2 linked regions of the Homo sapiens genome follow. The protein of the gene in region 1 purifies or fractionates together with the protein of each later gene. This does not show direct contact. Each region holds a gene or a part of one and is shown on either strand. Other genes may lie near its edges.

The links.
Region 2: the proteins of DYNLT2B (region 1) and BORA purify together in Homo sapiens (affinity purification with mass spectrometry; one large-scale study listed by BioGRID and IntAct). This does not show direct contact.

Annotation. Positions count from the first base shown.
Region 1 is NC_000003.12:196,307,300-196,312,848, forward strand, and holds part of DYNLT2B (dynein light chain Tctex-type protein 2B), read right to left. Parts: intron 1-5,549. UniProt on the Homo sapiens protein: Acts as one of several non-catalytic accessory components of the cytoplasmic dynein 2 complex (dynein-2 complex), a motor protein complex that drives the movement of cargos along microtubules within cilia and flagella in concert with the intraflagellar transport (IFT) system.
Region 2 is NC_000013.11:72,730,373-72,735,606, reverse strand, and holds part of BORA (protein aurora borealis), read right to left. Parts: intron 4,327-5,234; coding exon 4,220-4,326; intron 648-4,219; coding exon 602-647; intron 1-601. UniProt on the Homo sapiens protein: Required for the activation of AURKA at the onset of mitosis.

The sequences.
Region 1 (5,549 bases):
CTTTTTTTTGTTTTGTTTTTGAGATGGATTCTCACTCTGTTGCCCAGGCTGGAGTACAGTGGCACGATCTCAGCTCACCGGCAACCTCTGCCTCCAGGGTTCAAGTGATTCTCCTACCTCAGCCTCCTCAGTAGCTGGGACTACAGGTATGCATCACCACACCTGGCTAATTTTTGTATTTTTAGTAGAAAAGGTGTTTCACCATGTTGCCCAGGCTGGTCTCGAACTCCTGACCTCAGGTGATCCACTCACCTTGGCCTCCCAAAGTGCTGGGATTACAGGCGTGAGCCACCGCGCCCGGTCAGATATAGTAATATCTAAAGCATCTAAACAGTGCTGTTAAATACTAGTCCTTCAATAAACCTTAGCTTCCTTCCTTTTTCCCCTACTATAAGTCAGCTAGTGAGCTGAACCTTCAAGATAGAGAAATAAATAAGACGTTTTTCTTGCCTTAAAGAACTCACAGTAATAAAGAACTCAAAGGAAAATAGAAAAATAGGCCGGGCACGGTGGCTCACGCCTGTAATCCCAGCACTCTCAGAAGGTGAGGCCAGTGGATCACCTGAGGTCAGGAGTTTGAGACAAGCCTGGCCAACATGGTTAAGCCCCGTCTCTACTAAAAAATATAAAAATTAGCCAGGCATGGTGGCAGATCCCTGTAACCCCAGCTACTCGGGAGGCTGAGGCAGGAGAATTGCTTGAACCTGGGAGGCGGAGGTTGCAGTGAGCTGAGATCGCACCATTGCACACTAGCCTGGGTAACAAGAGCAAAACTCCATCTCGAAAAAAAAAAAAAAAAAGAAAATAGAAAAATAAATTATAAATTGAGTATGCTTATAATTCAAGGAGTGGCATGTATGATGTACATCAGGAACACAGAGCCAGTGGGGGCAGTTCCTCTGTTTGTCTGGGCAGTGGCAAGAAATCACTGGAAAAGACTTCTTGGAAGATGTGGCCGGCCAATAAACTGAGTCTTGAGGGCTGAGTAAGAGGGGACCAGGTCAGCCCCATCTCCCCACACGTCCGAGAACGAGGGGCATGTGCACAGCAGGAGAGCATGGGATCTCCAAGAAACTGTAAGCTGTTCAGTAAGACAGACAAGAAAAAAAATGAAGATTCCAGAGCAAAACGAGGTGATCCAGCACCATTTAGCTGTTTACTCCAGAAACTACGTTGCTAAAGCAGCAAAATCCTGAAAATTCTCACTAACACCAAGTCTGAAGAGAAAAAAATGGAATGGGCATTTTTGAATCTTTCTACTTTTTTGACCAAGGAATAGTGGAAAGAGTTTTAAAAAAACAAAAGAAGTGAAATAAGCGAAGCTGAAAGAGCCAGCTCTCTCTGATGAACGTGCAGGTTCCAAGATTACACTGTAAACGGGACAATCTGAAGACTACAGGCAATCTCCCATGTGGGGCATGAACCTGATTCAGAGTGTGTAAAGACAGAGTCCAAGTTATTTTTAAAAAACACTGCACACAACTCAGCTGAGCTTCCTCCTTTCTCTAACCAATCCCAAATTATACAGAAATGTGTCTAGAATAATACTCAGCCCTTAAATCACGGTTCTGAGGGGAAAATAAAATAGTCTCAGATATGGTGGGGAGGGGAACTTAAAAAAAAAACCCACACCATATCAGAGCAATTAAAAATCCCCCACATCATATCAGAGCAATTAAAAATCCCCCACATCATATCAGAGCAATTAAAAATCCCCCACATTATATCAGAGCAATTATGATGTATGGGCACAACAAAATGAAATGCAGCCAAATGGCAATAAACAAAGATGCAATAGCAAAAACAAAAGAGTAACAAAGAAGAACAAAGCTTCTGCTGGGTGCCATGGCTCACGCCTGTAATCCCAGCAATTTTGGAGGCTGAGGCGGGAGGATCTCTTAAGGCCAGAAGTTCAAGACCAGCCTAGGCAGCATGACAAGACCACCATCTCCACAAAACAATTTTTCTTTTTTTCTTTTTTTTGAGATGGAGTTTCACTCTTGTTGCCCAGGCTGAAGTGCAATGGCGTGATCTCAGGTCACCACAAACTCTGCCTCCTGGGTTCAAGCAATCTTCCTGCCTCAGACTCCCGAGTAGCTGGGATTACAGGCATGAACCACCACACTTGGCTACTTTTGTATTTTTAGTAGAGATGGGGTTTCTCCATGTTGGTCAGGTTGTTCTCGAACTCCTGACCTCAGGTGATCCATCTGCCTCGGCCTCCCAAAGTGCTGGGATTACGGACGTGAGCCACCACACCTGGTCCACAAAACAATTTTTCAAAAAATATTGAAGAAAAGAAAGAAACTTCCAGTGGAAGGAAGGAAGAAGGAAGGAAAGAAGGAAGGAAGGAGCTGTGTAAGAGAAAAAATTTGGCTGGGCACGGTGGCCCACACCTGTAATCCCACTTTGGGAGGCTGAGGCGGGTGGATCACTTGAGGTGAGGAGTTTGAGACCAGCCTGAACAACATGGAGAAATCCCATCTCTACTAAAAATACATTAGCAGGGCGTGGTGGTGCACGCCTGTAATCCCAGCTACTTGGGAGGCTGAGCAGGAGAATCGCTTGAACCTGGGAGGTGGAGGTTAAGGTGAGCCAAGATTGCGCCATTGCACTCCAGCTTGTGCAACAAGACCGAAACTCAGTCCAAAAAAAAAAAGAAAAGAAAAGAAAGAAAAAAATCAACCTAGGAAGTAATACAAATCAAGGAACGAAGAGTTATTCCTCACAATTAATTCACAATACTAGAACAATGTAAGCTTATAAACTCAATGAAATAAGTACTCAATCAGGTTATCAAATTTTTTAACTTTTTTTTTGGAGACAGAGTTTCGCTCTTCTGCCCAGGGTGGAGTGCAATGGCAAGATCTAGGCTCACTGCAACCTCCACCTCCCAGATTCAAGCAATTCTCATGCTTCAGCCTCCCAAGTAGTTGGGATTATAGGCATGCGCCATCACGCTCGGCTAATTTTTTTTTTTTTTTGCATTTTTAGTAGAGACGGGATTTCACCATCTTGGTCAGGCTGGTCTCGAACTCCTGACCTCAGGTGATCCACCTACCTCGGCCTCCCAAAGTGCTGGGATTACAGGCGTGAGCCACCGCACCTGGCCAGGTTATGATTTTGTTTGATTTGGTTTGGTTTTTTGAGAGGGAATCTCGCTCTGTCGCTCAGGCTGGAGTGCAGTGGGATGATCTCAACTCACTGCAACCTCCACCTCCTGGGTTCAAGCGATTCTCCCACCTGAGCCTTCTGAGTAGCTGGGATTACAGGCACGCACCACCATACCTGGCTAAATTTTATATTTTAGTAGAGACACGGTTTCACCATGTTGCCCAGGCTGGTCTGGAACTCCTGACCTCAAGTGATCCACCTGCTTCTGCCTCCCAAAGTTCTGGGATTACAGGCGTGAGCCACCTCACCTGGCCTGTTTTGTTTTGTTTTTGTTTTTTTGGAGATAGGGTCTCCCTCTGTCACCCAGGCTGGAATGCAGTGGGGCGATCTCGGCTCACTGCAACCTCCGCCTTCTGGGTTCAAGTGATTCTCCTGCCTCAGCCTCCCAAGTAGCTGGAACCATAGGCGTGCACCACCACGCCTGGCTAATTCTTTGTATTTCAGTAGAGACGAGGTTTCACCATGTTGCCCAGGGTGGTCATGAACTCCTGAGCTCAGGCAATCCACCCGCCTCGGCCTCCCAAAGTGCTGGGATTACAGGTGTGAGCCACGGCACCCAGCCTCAATCAGGTTATTAAGCAACATAAAGAGATGAAAAGAAAGACCACGGCCCTAGGGAACAAACAGAATACCCAGAAAAGATCATTCCAGAACTAATAAATTCAAAATGGCAAGAAAAAAGACACAAATGAAAACAATTACTGGTTTAAGAAAATCACAAGTAAATGGCAATAAAAAAGGAAGAAGCCTGGGCAAAATGGCAAAACCCCGTCTCTACAAAAAATACAAAAATTAGCCGGGTGTGGTGGCAGGCGCCTGTAGTCCCAGCTACTTGGGAGGCGGAGATGGGAGGATTGCTTGAGGCTGCAGTGAGCCAAGACTGCGCCACTGCATTCCAGCCTGGCCAACAGAGTGAGACCCTGTCTCAAAAAAAAAAAAAGAAGAAGAAAGAAATTATGGGAAAGAAAAACTAATAAATATAGAAGACAAAGATGGCTCAACATAACAATATTTGGTGTCCTGAAGAAAAGGAAGTAACGAATGGAATAGGAAACATATTCAGAGATATAAGGAAATTTCCTTTATATGGAAAGAATAAAGTCTGCAGATTGAAAGCTATAAAATGCTCATTAGAAAGTCAGAATCTTTAGAAAAGCTACTGAGCATAAAGGTGAAGATGAGGATTATTTTATTTATTTATTTATTTATTTATTTATTTATTTATTTTGAGACAGAGTCTCGCTCTGTTGCCCAGGCTGGAGTGCACTGGCACGATCCCAGCTCACTGCAACCTCCTTCACCCCCCAGGTTCAAGCAATTCTCCTGTCTCAGCCTCCCAAGAAATCCCAGCACTTTGGGAGGCCGAGACGGGTGGGTCACCTGAGGTCAGGAGTTTGGGACTAGCAAGCCCGGCTAATTTTTGTTTTGTTTTTTTGAGACAGAGTTTCGCCCTTGTTGGCCAGGCTTGAGTGCAATGGTGCAATCTTGGCTCACTGCAACCTCTGCCTCCTGGGTTCAAGCTATTCTCCTGTCTCAGCCTGGGATTACAGGCATGCGCCACCACGCCTGGCTAATTTTGTATCTTTAGTAGAGACAGGGTTTCTCCATGTTGGTCAGCCTGGTTTCGAACTCACAACCTCAAGTGATCCGCCCGCCTCGGCCTCCCTAAGTGCTGGGATTACAGGCGTGAGCCACCATGCCCAGCCCCTAAATTTTGTATTTTTACTAGAGACGGGGTTTCACCATATTGTTCAGGGTGGTCTCAAACTCCTGACCTCAGGTAACTCACCTGTCTTGGCCTCCCAAAGTGCTGGGAATACAGGCGTGAGCCACCACGTCCAGCCAAAGGTGAGGATTCCTTAAGCAGAGAACATCAAGCTGGGCTCAGATTTCTTGACAACAAGTTACCACTGAATGTCAGAGGGCAATGAAGCACAAGGGTCAAGAAAATAAATTATTACCTCAAAACTATGTATATTCTACTTTTGGGGGTGGAGGGGCGGGGGATGGAGTCTCGCTCTGTCGCCCAGGCTGGAGTGCAGTGGCACTATCTCGGCTCACTGCAGACTCTGCCTCCTGGGTTCAAGTGATTCCCCTGCCTCAGCCTCCCAAGTAGCTGGGATTACAGATGCCCACTACCACGCCCGGCTAATTTTTGTATTTTTCGTAGAGACGGGGTTTCACCATGTTGGCAAGGCTGGTCTCAAACTCCTGACCTCGGGTGATCCACCCGGCTCCGCCTCCCACAGTGCCTGGATTGCAGGCGTGAGCCACCGCGCCTGGCCCATAGTATATTCTACTTTAAAGGCAAAAGGCAGGCATTCTCAAACACAAAAGAATCCAGGGAATACGGCATTTCTGAGTCCTTTCTGAAA
Region 2 (5,234 bases), on another chromosome or scaffold:
AATAATAACCTTATTTAGATGCTAAGAAAGGCAATTCAACAGACATAAAAAAGCAAAAAACTTAATTATTTTTATTTTTTAGAAAGCCTACATTATGATATACCTTTCCTGTTTAACAGTAAGAGATTTTATTTCATGAATATCTTAAAAATCCAAAGTATTAACAAAAAAAGACAAAGCCATTCCCAATGCCAATCTAGACTCTGAAGGCCTGAGAATATTCGACTTCCTCTACATAAACTCCAACTTGAAACAAAGTTTGTGCTAATCAACATTTTGAAGGCACAAGGAAGACAAATTGTGCTAGGTCCTGAGAATGAAAGGATGAAGTACAGTATTGGCCAAAAAAGATTGCGTCTAGGGGACAGAAACACTAAACTGATCATTACAACAGTATGCAAGTGCTATGCAAGGTACTGGGATAGCTGGAAATTATTGGTCTTAGGACAGTACAGAAGGGTGCTTTATATAGATGGGACTGTGAAGGGCTTGGAGGGGAGATAGGACAGTGAAGGAATTGAAGAAAGTCTTCCTAAAAGAAGTGATGTACATGCAGAATTGATCCTTAACTGATTTAATGATCAGTAACAGTTTAAGTTACCTCTTCAATGGCTTTTTGTCTTTTGTCTTCCACATCTTTATCTATTCTATACAAAGATAAAGAAGAAAAATAACCATGCTATTACTTAAGCTTATTGAACATTTTAAAAAATAACCTTTCAAATAAATAATCTCCCTTCATTGAAAACTGGCAAATGTTAAGCTCACTTTATAATTAATACTAGTGGTATCTTGTAACATTTAGTAACATTTAGGCAGTATTCTGAAATTCAGCAGTTAGCTGTTAGGCTTACCTCCCTCTTTTCCATTCAAAGTTTGAATGCAATGATACTTTATTTCAAAAGACTTACATTGATATTAAATTGCTTTTAACAATATAAATTTGATAAACTTTGTCCCTTAATACAAATTAAGAAGTATTTAATTCAACATACATCTAAAAATTGTCCAAAGTTTTTCTCTTCAATTATAACAAGTTTATCATGGCAATAATTTTAGAATCAACTTTTACTGTAAAATAGATGAGGATAGTTCACAGTTCTAAACAGTCAAAAATATTAACTCTGAAATAAAACACTGACAATATAACATTTTTTCCAAATGAATTTTTTTTTCACTTTGATACAATCTGCAATTACTGTTATATAAACTTCTCAGCTACAAGATTTAATATAAAATTTTGGGTCCAAGCACAAAGCATATACTTGCCAAGGACTCAGCAGTTAGCTTTCTAGGACCACTTCTTTATTCCATTACAGGAAAGAATCCTTGCCTTCCATCAGTAAATTGGTAAGACATATTTTTTTTTACAATTTAAAATTATTTTGTCTCAGAATTTTTTCTTTAACTTTTATTTTAAGTTCAGGGGTACAAATGCAGGTTACACAGGTAACTTGTGTCACTGGGGTTTGTTGTACAGATTATTTAATCATCCAGGTATTAAGTCTAGAATCCATCAGTTATTTTTCCTGATCTCCCTCCTCTCACCCTCCACCAGGCCCCAGTGTGTGCTGTTCCCCTCTATATGTCCACATGCTCTCATCATTTAGCTCCCACTTATAAGTGAGAACATGAGGGGTTTGGTTTTCTGTTCCTGTATTAGTTTGCTAAGAATAATGGCCTCCAGCTGCATCCATGTCCATGCAAAGGACGCGATCTCATGCTTTTTGTGGCTGCATAGTATTCCATGGTGTGAATTTTTTTCACATATAGACTTGCTCATGGCTTAATAAAGCTTATATGAGAATGTATACATTTCAGAAATTAAGTAGATTTTTCAAGTGGGAGAAGTATGAGAAAATAAACTACAGTGTCAACCCACATATCCCAGCTTGAACAGTAGCCATTTTGAGGATAACAAAATGGCCTTCATCTTATCAATGGTTCTCTTCATCTTATCATGGTCAAAATGGCAGCACATAACAAGCTTAGCAAATAGCAAGTAAGCTCTGAACTAGGATTACTGCATTCAGAAACCTTTTGCTACTTCATCAGAGGGACTTCAAGAACATGAAATACTCAGGTGATTGCTGGAAACTGTAAAAATCACTGTGGCCAAATACTCTAGAGTCAGATCAAACAAGATTCTAAGAAGTCATACAGGGGAGAGCATCCTGACCAGCATACCACTGAACACCAGTATGATGCATATAGGTATAGGTGTGGCCTGAATGTTGAGCCTTTGCAGGGTGGCAAAGGAGAGGGGACCTCAGGACTGGTCACCTACATGGCCAAGACTCACCTGCTTACACTGGTATGCTTTTCAGTTACAATTTTCTGTGTGGATGGTGGCATGAAAAGGATGGGAAGAATTGAAGTAGAGGGCTAATATGTAAGAAGAGATACTGAAAGACACTGCTTGTTTCTAAGGATGAAACGAGATGCTCTGTGAAGAATATATTGACTATCCTTGGTAGAAGCCATAACCATTCATTGAATTATATTATTAAATTAAATTATAATATTTTCCCACTCTTTTCCATTCTTCTATATGATAAATCTATGTACTAAGAGACACCAAGATTATCTTTATAAACCTTTGCAGACAATATATCATTTAGTAGTAAGAACAGAAGCACTGTGTTACAACTTTGGTCTAATTATATTTTTGACTCTTGACTCTTAGTATCTTGTACTTCTTCAGTGTTTCTTACAGTCCCTCACAGTACTCAATAAGTATCTCTTGACTGATCAATATAATAATTGTCCATCATTCAATATATTGAAGAAATGAGACAAAATAATTAAGCATAATTAAGTTCGTGTGAAACAAAAAATTAGTCACTGTGACTCATTTGCTTTTAGATATTCATCTCACCTTCTCTTTCAAAGGTATTATTTATTTACTTATTTATTTATTTTATTTTTTTGAGATGGAGTCTTGCTCTGTCCCCCAGGCTAGAGTGCAATGGCATGATCTCAGCTCACTGCAACCTTTGCCTCCTGGGTTCAAGCGATTCTCCTGTCTCGGCCTCCCGAGTAGCTGGGATTACAGGTGTGCACCACCATGCCCGGCTAATGTTTTTGTATGTTTAGTAGAGATGGGGTTTCACTATGTTGGCCAGCCTGGTCTTGAACTCATGACCTCAAGTGATCTGCCCGCCTCAGCCTCCCAAAATGCTGGGATTACAGGTGTGAGCCACCACACCTGGCCTCAAAGGTATTATTTAAATTTAAGTTAAAATCCTTTCATGCTTCATCCTCATTCTATTCCCTTCCTATTAACACTCTGGGTGGACATTAATTTTATGATTGAATGGTCATCATGTTACCAAGCAAAGAGAAGATGGAGGAGAAAAGCCAGTAAGTATTTACCAGAATATCTCAATATGTGTGCAACGTTGTGTGACTGAATTCTTAAGTCAAAGGGAAAAGGATTATCCTTTGTTTTGGACTAACAACATGTCTACCTTAGGACAGCAAATTAAAATCTGGTCATACCATGTATTTGATTTTTTTCAAATATTAAAAAATCAGACTATAAAACATATAAACAAGAGTCCCTAAAACTACAAAAGAATAATAGGACCTTACACTTTGTAATAAAAAACTAAATCTGCAGTACATTAGTGCCTTGAAACCTAAACAACACATCAACAAATAAGACTGCACTGGGTGATATGTAGAATTCTAGAAAATGTAATTCAGATTCCAAGTGAATTGTTACAGTTGGATGATGTCTAAAAAACCGCTCTGTTGCTAATGGATACCCTTCCATTCAGTGCATACGTAACTCTTTGAGGGGGTTTTAGGTTTCCCCAAACATAGATAACAATGAAACAGCATTTTGCTTTACCCCAAATCATCAAAAAGACAAACTGAAACAAGTTAATGGCAGAAGCCACAACCATGTAGAAAAGTGCAAATTTCAAAATGTTCTTCTCTTAACTGAGTGCTAGGGGTACAGAGCTGTCACCTCAGTAGCAGAGGGAAAAGGTTACTTGTAAAAGAAAAAGGTATCTACTCAGGTCTGGAACTGTTGGCAAGAAAATCTTTCTGAATGTAGTTCTTTGAACTCATTCATTTAGATAGAAAAAATCTGCATCAAAATTTTTTCTCCCTGATACCTTTACATAGAAAAATACTCAACATTTAGAATTTCCTACCTCTCTTCACTTGAGAGTGTTATTAGACTTAGGTGCAAGAAAGGAAAACTTACCGAGAATGACTTAAGTATAAAGCTTGACGATGAATATCTTCTGGGTCTATTTCTACAGGATTTATTACAGCTAGTTGATCAATAGACCATCTAAATTTCCCTGGAGTCTTAACAAAAGAAAGTGAGCTTATGAGTAAAGGCAAACTAAAATAGTTCATCAAAATGCTAACCTATGTGAGAAATAATATGAATGGTTATAATATGAAAATATTTTAAAGCTTGTATTTTAAAATTTGACTTTACCATGAAATTAAATGGCAAAGGGTAATCATATCACATTCGATCAACTGACTTAATTGTATCTCTCTCTCTCTTTGTTTAAGACAGAGTCTCGTTCTGTCACCGAGGCTGGAGTGCACTGGTGTAATCTCAGCTCACTGCAACCTCCACCTCCCCGGTTCAAGCGATTCTCCTGCCTCAGCCTCCTGAGTAGCTGGGATTACAGGCACCCGCCACCACACCCAGCTAATTTTTGTATTTTTTTTTTTTTTTTTTTTTTAGTAGAGATGGGGTTTCACCATGTTGGCCAGGCTGGTCTCAAACTCCTGACTTCAAGTCATCAGCCCACCTTGGCAGTGCTGGGATTACAGGCATGAGCCACAGCGCCCAGCCTGTATCTCTTTTAAAATATCAGAATCTTTCACCTGGGTTGGAATTACGTAATACGAGAAAAATCACAACAGAGTAATAAAGATATAAAACTTTCACAATTAACACTCATCAGTGTGATAAACTAAGCCCATGTAAAAGTAAAAATCTCTCACAGTTAACAAACGTCTTTACTTTCACTAAGAAGGAACTGAAATTAAAGTCCTTAGTCACTTTGGAGGTGGCTGCAAAAGCTCACAACATAGTTGATCCTTAAAATAATTATGAATGGCAACCAGTGCTGCCTTTCTGTACTCAACCATGCAACTGAATTAAAGGTTTATCCAAATCCTAATCTGTAATTAGAAATATATTCTAGGCAAATTCAGTCCTAAAAACGCAAGATGCCATACATTCCAACTTTGAG